Regions from separate parts of the Homo sapiens genome. Here region 1 is linked to region 2. Evidence: fine-mapped QTL for protein levels in blood plasma. A gene starts in region 2. The other region holds a variant in brackets. All regions are shown on one strand. Distances are from middle to middle.

Evidence for each region. PIP is the posterior inclusion probability: the model's chance that the variant is causal. Sun 2018 read protein levels with aptamers (SomaScan).
Region 1: its variant is fine-mapped to the plasma level of the GLCE protein (Sun 2018, PIP 0.95).

The regions. Positions count from the first base shown.
Region 1 is chr15:69,406,753-69,412,055 of GRCh38, forward strand. It overlaps PAQR5 (progestin and adipoQ receptor family member 5), which reads left to right. Exons shown (of 9, transcript NM_017705.4): 9 at 1-1,028. The region is part of intron 1 of KIF23-AS1 (KIF23 and PAQR5 antisense RNA 1); the gene reads right to left. Among named protein-coding and RNA genes, the nearest start is that of KIF23, 4.9 kb to the right of the region's middle. The variant A/AACAC (reference allele first, on the strand shown) is at 2,471.
Region 2 is chr15:69,157,511-69,162,883 of GRCh38, forward strand. It overlaps GLCE (glucuronic acid epimerase), which reads left to right and starts at 3,125. Exons shown (of 5, transcript NM_015554.3): 1 at 3,125-3,247. It also overlaps the pseudogene LOC100421574. RefSeq lists an enhancer at 2,787-3,287 and silencers at 2,985-3,194, 3,395-3,504.

The DNA.
Region 1 (5,303 bases), 250 kb after region 2:
CCAGCTACTGTGGAGGGTGATGTGGGAGGATTGCTTGAACCCAGGAGTTGGATGCTGCAGTGAGCTATGATTGCGCCATTGCGCTCCAGACTGGGCAACAGGGCAAGACCCTGCCTCAAAAAAAAAAAAAAAAGAATTTGTAATTGTTGGTAGGATGTTATGGGAAATTTAGAGGTCTTCTGAGTATAAAGTGGTTTAAATATTTGGTCTGCTGAAGTCTTTCTGGAAGTGTTGTTCCCCCTGCTGCCCCGCCCAGTAGAAACTTGCTCATATGAGAGGTTCTGAGGTAGGTGCGGTGTAGTAGAATGGCATTGTCAGATATGTTCAAGAAACCCTTCATTTGACACTATTTTGTACCTTATGGTACCCTTTAACATTTTTTAATTAAAAAAAATATTTTTTGAGACAGGGTCTTGTTCTGTTGCCCAGGCTGGAGTGTAGTGTTGCAATCTTGGCTCACTGCAACCTCTGCCTGACAGGCTTCAGTGATCTTTCCACCTCAGCCTCCTGAGTAGCTGGGACTACAGGTGCATGCCACCAAGCCTGGCTAACTTTTTGTAGAGATAGGGTTTTGCCATGCTGCCCAGGCTGGCTTAGAATTCCTGAATTCAAGTGATTTGTCTGCCTCAGGCTCCCAAAGTGCTGGGATTACAGGCATGAGCCACACTGCACCCAGTCCATGCTACCCTTTTTATATGAAACACCTATTAACACGGTACAACAACACTTCAAAACATATTATTTGAATTTCGGCCTCTGATTTTCTAGTCAACAATCCATTAAGGCAAAGACCTGTTTCCAAACTCAGATGTTCTCCAACTTACACTAATGTCTGGTTTTCTTGAACTATGTGAGAGAAAAAAATAAACAGAATTTATTTATTATCATAAAGTCATCCTGTTTGCCACTTAATTTGGTTATGTTTTATCTACCACACTGCAAATATGTTAATTCACCATGAGAAACAGATCCCTGTACACATGTGTATCAGTAAATCATTCAATGAATAGTTAGTGCTTAGGATGTATAGAATGGCCACTGTCCTAGGAACTGGGGATACACAAGTGAAAAAAACCTGCAATGTCCCTCCCTAATGAAGCTAGTGTTCTGGTTGGGCAGGCAGACAGGATATATAGATGAATCCAGATAATAAGTGCTGTAAAGAAACTAAGCCTAGTAGGGCATGTGAATTGATGGTCACTCTGATAAGCTGACATTTGAGGAAGACTTGATGGGCAAAAAGGAGCCAGCCTTGTCAGCTTGTCGGGGGAAGGGATTGCAGGTTGAGCTAAGTAGAGGGGTCCCAAGGCTGGCAGGTACTTGTTCTACTGGAAGGATGTTAACTCCAGAAGATATCTGGATGACTTGATTTTTGAAGAATTCTGAGATTTTCCTGATTTTTTTTCCCTTGAGAAATTGCCTATAGGGCTTTCCTATGTCTCTTGGTACTTGTATGGAATGTGTCAACTCATAAGAAATTAACTTCAGACAGTTGCCACGCTCATTCTCTTCATGCTAAGCAACAGATTTCTGAAACAGGCTGAATTTTTTTGCCTCCTCCAGAACACAGAAGGAAAGGCCCTCAAAGATCATTTAATTCAGCCCTTTTAAAATTTGTTCGATGATGTATAATGCAGATTCTCAGGCCCAAACATACTGACACAGACTACCCACAGTGGGGGAGGTGATCCTGTAGTTTCAAATTTTTAGCTAAAGCTGTAGGTAATTTTTAATATAAGGGAGTTCAGAAGCACTGATATAGTCCAACCATTTTTAAATACAATTTCAGACTTAGAAAAATGTTGCAAAATAGTGCAAAGAATTCCCAGGTACTTTTCACCTTTTCTCCTTTCCTCCCTTTTCCAACAGTGAGAAAGCTGACTGCCATTAGCCACAATATGTTTTATTTTATTTTATTTATTTTATTTTTTTTTGAGACGAAGTCTCACTCTGTTGCCCGGGCTGGAGAGCAGTGGCACGATGTTGGCTCACTGCAACCTCTGCCTCCCATGTTCAAGCGATTCTGCCTCAGCCTCCTGAGTAGCTGGGATTACAGGCGCGTGGCACAATGCCTGGCTAATTTTTGCATTTTTAGTAGAGACAGGGTTTCATCATGTTGGCCAGGCTGGTCTCGAATTCCCGACCTCAAGTGATAGACCTGCCTCAGCTTCCCAACATGCTGGGATTACAGGCATGAGCCACCTCACCCAGCCCATGATACATTTTATCTGCTCAATCCTAGAATGTACAGAATGTTGTTTCAGAATTACCAACTAATGTCTGTGCCTACTAATTAGAATTCAAAACGTTTCAAGTTTTTTTTTTTTGTCTTGACCCTGAGGGCAAGCTTGATTCTAAATAGTCACAGTTACCTGGGTTATTTCCCCCTTTCTGTGTATGTTATTTATTTGAAATATAGTTCAAGTCATTTGTTTCTTTTTGTGTAAATTTTACAGTCCCCCAACTCCCC[A/AACAC]ACACACACACACACACACACACACACACACACACACACATCCCCAGGTTGATTTTATTAATTTGTGTTTTCTGTATGTAAACATTAACATCTAACCATTCATGTTACAAATGGCCTGGCGAGAGAGATTCATGGCCTGGGAACCTGAGACAATGTTTCTAAGGCCACTGAGTGACCAGCAGGGCCTGGGAGGGAACAGTGTGCGGAGCATGTCCAAGATCCCAAGGCAGTGCTGTCTCCATTTTACCACCTCCCCTCAAACACTCGGGGCTTCAGCAGTTTCTGGTCATTGGTGTTTACTGGGTTCCCACAGCTGGACTTGCTTATCTGGGTGTTTGGATTAATATATGATTTCGAATTTGTGTAGTGTCAGCCCCTCTTCAATGATTTGGATAAGACTCGCCTGGTCCAATTTAACAGTTTCTAATAAAGTTAAACTTACCGTAAGACCCACAATCCCACCCAAGAGAAATAAAAACACACCTACATAAAGACTTTTACACAAATAATTATACCAGTTTCATAATCTCCAGAAAGTAGAAACAACCTAAATGTCCAACTGGTGAATGAATAAATTGTCCTGCATTCATACAGTGGAATAGACTCAGCAACAAAAAGGGAACAAATTACTGGTACATGCAACACATTGATGAATATCAAAGCATTATGCTGAGTGAAAGAAAAGACATTCTGGAAAAGGCAAAAGTATAGGGAAGAAAATCAGAAAAGTCGTTGCCAAGGCCTGGGAGTAGGGGCAGCCCAGAGAATTTTCCACTGTGATGGAAATATACGTTTGATTGTGGTTACAGCACACTATATATTTGTCAAATACACATAACGATACAACTAAAAAGGGTCCATTTTACTGTATGTAAATTATACCTAAAATACTTGACTTTAGAAAGAAAAAAGCCCCTCAGTTCTCTTCTCCCCACCCTCCTACGCGCACTCCTGATCTGGATCTCTAATTCTATGGTAAAATGCAAATCTTTTAATGGCTATAGGTAGCCCTTTGCTATTTTTGAATAGAAAAATGATGTAATTATTTGGTAGTTTTAAGGAAATTAATAAGCCAGAGAACTTTAATACAGAAGTGAGGGAGGAAGAAGAAACTGGCCTGAAGAGAAGCTGGAGGTGGTGCGATGTAACTGGGTCCTCAACTGGAGCGTTCTTTGAAGGGATGATTCATTCATCCCTTCAAGCCATGTATGGGGCACCTGCACTGCTAGGCACTGGGCATGCAACGATGCCATCTAGTGAGGCTGTGGGGATAAGCCAGTAGAGGAGACAGGAATGAACAGTGACTGCCAATTGGAATGTGAGTGCTGAAACAAGTCAACAGGTGCAGTGAGTGGGAAAGGGCAGTTTTGGGGGCGTGGGGGCTGTACCACGGGGCCCAGTATCCACAGCAGGGTAGCTGGCAGATCTGCAGAGAACTGAAGGCAAGGCATTGTCAGAGGAAAGGAGGGAGGAGAGCGTGACAGCACAGAGAATGGCGTGTGAGCCCAGCGTGTTCAGGGCACTGCAGTTCAACATGACTAGAGGGGACAGGGGGCAGTGATGGGTGATGAGCCCCAGAGGAAGCGTCTCAGGGCCCTGTGGTGGGTCTCCAACAATGGGGAACCACTGCAGAGTTTCATATAGGTATGTGACATAATCAGATCCATGATTTAGAGATGAGCAAAATGGAAACTGAATTGGAAAGTGGCAGCAGAGAGGCCTGTTAGGAGACTGCTGTCTTTATCAGACAAGAGAAGATGGTGGCTGAGGAGACAGAGAAAAGTGGAGCAGTTTGGAGGTTTGGCTACTTAGTAGGTAGAACTGTTAAGATTTAGTGATTGAATATTGAGACAGAAGAAGAGAGAAAAGCTAACAATGTTGCTTTAGACTCTGGCTTGGTGGATGCCATCCACTGAGAGGGAGCAAGTTTGGGAGAAGAGATTAGAATGTGTTAGATGTGAGATGCTTGTGGGATATCGAAGTGGAGAATCCAGAAGACAGCTGGATATATGGCTCTGGAGCTCAGAAGAGCAAACATGAATGGGATGTGAAGCCATATGAGTGCTTGAGAGTGCCTAGGGAAAAGGCACACCTAGTGACCAGCTCTAAACCCTGAGCCCCAACATTTAAGGGAGAAAAAAAGAACTCACAAAGGAGACTGAGAAAGAAGGGCTAGACAGCTAGGAGAAAAAATAAAGGCATGGGAAGAAAGGAATGGGCAACATTTTTTAGTGTTGTTAAGAAGCCAAGTAAGACAAAAGTCAAATAGATTTAGCATCAAGGAAGTGGTAATTTTGGTGACAAGAGTTCCAATGGAGTCTGAGGTAGAAGCTAAACTGAAGAGCAACTAGGATATAAGTAGTCAGCAACCAAGCCCAATTCCTAAATGATAAAAATTCCAAACTCTAGGCCAGGTGCGGTGGCTCACACTTGTAATCCTAGCACTTTGGGAGGCTGAGGCAGGTGGATCACTTGAGGTCAGAAGTTCAAGACCAGCCTGGCTGAGGCAGGAGAATTGCTTGAACCCCGGAGGCGGAAGCTGCAGTGAGCCGAGATTGCGCCACTGCACTCCAGCCTGCGTGACAGACTCCGTCTCAAAAAACAAAACAAAACAAACAAACCAACAAAATACCAAACTCTAGCTTGACAACAAAGTCCTAATCATTCAAAGACTTCAACATAGGAAGCAAAGCAATAAAAGCACTAGGAAACAAAAAATGAGAAATAAAATAAAAAACTCAGAATGGATGTATTTTTCCAGTATGACACAAAACAGAAGCCATAAAAGAAAAGACGGATTAATCTGTCTACCTGAAATTTTTTCCAAGCTGTC
Region 2 (5,373 bases):
TGCAAAGGCAGAGGGTGTGGGAAACAGAAAATGCACATATTTATACTTCAAGGTATAGATCAACTCTACATGTCATTACCCTACCAAGAAATTCAGTGGCTCTGCTGCTACCACCTTTAGATGCAGACAGGCAGGGCTTCCCTTTAAAGGCTCTGCTCTGGCTCTTCCCCAGCTGTGCTCCTACATCTGAGGAGTCCATTAAGCCAAGAAATGTGTCCACCTGGAGGTGACTGTACCCCTTCAGACCTCACATCAGGTACCCAGGAGCCAGTATTCCCTGCCCAAATGGCTCTGAGCCACTTCCAGAGCCTGCATAGGCTTCTCCCCTAGATCCTGAGATATGCACCCCTGGACCTGTGGAATAGCCAAGAAATGACTGTTTTGGAGGGGAGAAAGTGAAGACAGAGCTTGGACATGTGGGCTAGTGCGTTCATGGAGTGGAGGGTACCTGGCACTGTAGGGCTGAAGGGGCCATGGGAAGCAAAGGGTAAAGGCTGCTCCATGTGGGGAGCAGTTCTCTCTGACCTGCCTTGTTCCAGCAAGGAGCTCTGAGAAGTCTCAGAATTCTCAATTCAAACTGGGTCTTCCAAGTTGTTATGAAAGTACATTTGTCAAGGTGAAAGGATATAATGCTTTTAGTACTCCATTTGTTAGCTTTTTAACTTTCACATATTTAGACATTTGGTATGTGGGTCTCCATGTGTAGCCTTCTCATGGTCCCTACAAATATTAAAATTGGTCCCGGCTCCCCATTTAATATGGAATCCAAGTCAAATCGGCTTGGCCTGATTTTTAAGGCCTTTTACTATTTGATTTTTCTCTAATCTTACCTCCCGCTACTCTCTGCAGGAATCTTCTATCTGTCAAACCTGTCGACCTACAGCCCAGGCTCAGCCCACATCCTTTTCTCTGTGCTCAGGTTCACATTATTTTTCTCCTCTGAAAGGCCTCCGTTTCTGCCTTGGATTTATATGGCCAACGTAGTGTTTCATTATGACCCAGCTCAAGCCTCACAGCCATGTCTCCTCCTCTGGACTCTTCTAACAGCTTTTGTCTCAGCCACTTATTGGCACTCAAAGTGTGCAACTGTGTGTGGCCATTTTTCATATTATGCACAAGGTGTGGCTATAAGATAAGGAGACATAAATATGCAAGTTTTCAAACCAGGACAAGGGACAGGGAAAAAAAAAAAAAAAAGAAGAGTTGCCAAAGAATCAGGAGAATGTAGTTAGGCAGCTACTAAGGGAAGAGATGTCAGCATTGTCAATAAGCTGAGAGAGGTCATGAGAAAGATACCCCAAAATAGACCATTATTCTAGAAGGTAAGAGGTCTTTTGTAACCATTGAAAGAATAGCAGATTGTGTGAGCAAAAGCAACGCTGTAGTGGGAAAAATAAGAGATGAGAAAGTGGAGACAACAAGTATACTTTTATTTATTTATTTAGAGACAGGGCCTCAATCTGTGGCCCAGGCTGGAGTGCAGTGGCTTGGTCACAGTACACTGCAGCCTCAACCTCCCACACTCAAGCGATCATCCCATCTCAGCACCCCGCCTCCCCCACCGCGAATAGCTGGGACTATAGGTGTGTGCCACCACACCCGGCTAGTTTTTTATTTTTTGCATATAGGGGAGCCTTATTATGTTCCCAGACTGGTTTCAAACTCCTGGCCTCAAGCAATCCTCCCACCTTGGCATCCCAAGGTGCTGGGATTACAGGCATGAGCCACAGTGCTCAGCAGCAAATATAATGTTTCCCAAGAAGTGTGATTCCTAGGAGAAAGGAGAAGGTAGTTTGGGTGGAAGAGATTGGGTGGCTTTGTTCTGTTCAAAGGATGGGCGAGACTATGTTTGTGGGAGAAAGATTTAGGTTAGAGGAAGAAATTAATAATGGGGAAAGAAAGAATAGCTGAATAAAATCTGGGAATGGCTGGGATCCAGGGCACAGGTGCAAGATTTAACCTTGAGGAGAAAGGGCACTTCTTGCTGTGGGTGAGGGAGTGAAGAGGGTAAGATGAATGAAGGTACAGGATAGGCATAATAATGAAGAGCCTGGATTTAAGGGTGAAGCCACTGGCTCACATTATAGAGGAAAGGCTAGGAAAGCCGAATTTTCTGGGGCCAGGTCCAGATTTAATATATTTAAGTATAACAGTCTTAATTCATTCCTTTCACCTTATTCAGTGCCCTGGGTGTGCCAAATACTACTGGGCACTGGGGTCTACAAAGGTACGACTTTTCATGTAATGTTGGAATTTGTTATGTTGGTAACTCGAGATTTGCATATATTTAACAGTCTTAATTCATTCCTTTCACATTATTCAGTGCCCTGGGTGTGCCAAATACTACTGGGCACTGGGGTCTATAAAGGTACGACTTTTCATTAATTTTGGAATTTGTTATGTTGGTAACTCGAGATTTGCTTTTCATTCTTCTGGAAGGCTGTATGTAGAAATAAATACAGTCATCAGACGAGTTCTTTGTCAGACCAGATGTCCTGGGTTGGGGTTTGGAAAACATGGGCATCTTAACAATGGTGCCCTGTTTGAGGTGGAGAGGGAGGAGAGGCCCAAATCGGGGAAAGGAATTAAATGGAGGTTTAGACGCGGGTAACCGGAGTGGGTGGGCCTTCAACCTGGAAGATGGGAATCCCCAGCGCACTTCGGGCAGCGCTGTAACCAAGGGTAACCGCACCTCGGTTTACACCGGTGTGAAGACCAGCCTCTTCCCCAAACCAGGTGTATCTACGGCGGCCTAGCAGGACCACACACAAGCCAAGCACGTCACGTCATTCGAGCTACCTTACCGCGAAAGTCCACTGCCTCCTACTACTTCTGGTCACTACTACCTTTGCTCACAGTTTATTAAGGAGGAGCGGAGAAGAAGAGGGGCGGAGAAGGGGCGGGGAGAATCACCTTTCCTTTTTTACAATTGGTCGTAGTAGACTCCGAGTCCTGCCGCCCGTCCTGCAGCCGACAGGCTGCCAGGACTGTCACTCGAGGAGCTGCCGCTACCGCCCCCCGCCGTGGCCCCGCCCCTTGCCGTGGCTGGGATCTCGCGGGAAGAGCTGCGGGCACGGCGGTGGCTCGGTCTCCCGGCTGCGCGCGGAGCGGGAGGGCTCTCCTCACACAAGCGCTTCCTTGCCGAGAGGCTGGAGCTGCGGCACCGCAGGCCTGAGCCACCCCTTCTCTGCTGTCTCCTTCTCTTCCTCAGGGCTCCCGTGTCTGCTCGCCCTCCGACGCTGCTCAGGTTAGAAAGCCCGGAGCGCGTCTCCGCTGAGGAGCGGTCGGGGAGCGGGGACACGGAGCAGCCGGAGCAGGCGGGCTCCTGACGGGGGCGGCTCTGGGGGCTGCGCGGCGCTGCCTGGTGGGCGCGAGGCTTGGCGGGGTTTGGGAGTCCGGGGGGCGAGGAGGCGGTGCAGTGGGATCCGGGCGCGGGCGCCCAAGGGCGGTGTAGCGGGTGCCGGAGCTCCCGAGGTGAGGGGGCAATGTATTAGGGATCCTGGGGGCTCTTCCGGCTTGGGGTAGGGGTGGGTGGCGGCACACGGGGTCCTAGGTCTTTGACGTCGAGGGAGATTTATCAGGGTCTTGAGCTTCTTGGAGGTGGTGTAGCGGGGTTCCGGGACAAGGGGTCTTTTTACCCGGGTCCCGAGCTCTTTGGGGCAGAGAATGCAGTTTAGCAAGGTTTACACCGGTGTAAACCTTGTCTCTGGAGGCAGATCATCGGGGTCTTGGGGGTTCTTTGAGCGGGCGTGGGCGTCCGTTTCGCATTGCTGGGATGAAGAAGCAGTGTGTCCGGGTTCTGGGGAGAGGGGTCTGTTCATCGGTGTCTCCGGGTGAGAGAGCGATGTATCCGTTCCGCTGGGGCCGGGGCCGCCTTGGGGGGTTGTTGGGGGCTGAGGGTGTGTAGCGGCGACCAGCGTCTGGCCGGGGTTTCTGCTTTGCCCGGAGCGGGGCGGTAACTTGGCATGGTCTCCAGTCTTTTGGGGGCGACGGGGCGAGTTAGCTGGCCCCCGGGCAGTCTCTCGGGGTGGGCGCGGCTCCGCAGGCGCTGGGTCCGCTGAGGGCGGGAGAGGGCTTTGGTGCTACCGCGCAGGCTGGGCAGCATCCTGAAACGTTTTTGTTCAGGTCTCCTTCTCTCTGGATGAGATTTACTCAATGCTTAGTTGGAGGATTGATCGGTGTTGTTGCCTAGTTGAAGAAGCAGTGCGTTTGTTCTGCAGTTTTCTTTTCTCTGCCCCGGGATCCCTGTGGGGGCGCGCTGGTCTCGCTGGAGCTCCGGGAGCTAGAGTGGCAGCACCTTAGGTGGGCGTTTGGTCTGCAGGTTCTTTAGGAGGCCGGTGTCCGCAGGTTGAGCGTGGATACAGCTCCTGAGCAACTGGAATCTGTTGAGGGTGGGGAAGACTGATTTTGGCTTGCTTTCCTAGGTGGTGGTCTGCTTTGCTCATCCTGCATGATTAGATCTGTTCTGAAGTCTTGCCTGAGTGAATGTTAGGCAGAGTCGGATAGTGCAGGGAAGCGTGTTCTGTCTGGCTTCTTTCTGTCCTTTGAAAAGCATTTGTAGAGAGGGATAACGTCAAATTCAGCCTCCAGAAAACAATGGAATTTGAAATCCCAAAGCTAGAACTCTGCAAAAACGTTTTCTGTGACCTGTAAGGATGGTTAATCGAGCTTTTTTAGAGAATTCTGCTTAACAGTTTCATTGTATTGTAAAAGTGTATTTAGCCTTGGATATTACAGAGGTTTTGGTAACTAGCGTAGGCGTAGGTGGGATTTAAATAAAATGACTTGTATGTATGTGTATTGGTTAAAAAAAAAAACAGCGTATAGGTGAGAAAGCCTATGTGTTTGCCTGACATTTCTTTTGGTTAGTTACTCTATCACAGAGGCCTGTATATGAAAGTTAATGTGGCAGGCAGTGAAGTCCGTACTCAGAGCTGTTCTGTAAATATGTAATCTGGGGTTAACAGACAAATTTGAGTATACCAAAGCAAATAATTTTGCCTGCCTTAGTCTTTTTCTTCGTGTCAGTTTTTTTTTTTTCTTGTTTTTTGGTTTGTTTCTTTTGAAACAGGGACTTATTCCGCCTTCCAGGCTAGGTTGTAGCATCGCTACCATGGCTCACTGCAGCCTCGACCTCCAAAGCTCAAGCAGCCCTCCCAGTTCAGCTTCCCATCCCCACCCCCAGTAGAGGAGCTGGAACTACATGCATGTGCCACCACGCCTCACTAATTTTATTTATTTATTTATTCAATTAATTAAAGACAAGGTCTTGCGCTGTTGCCCAGTCTGGTCTTGAACTCCTGGCCTCAAGTGATCCTTCAGCCTCAGCTTCCCAAAGTACTGGGATTTAGAGGCGTGAGTCACCATGCCAGG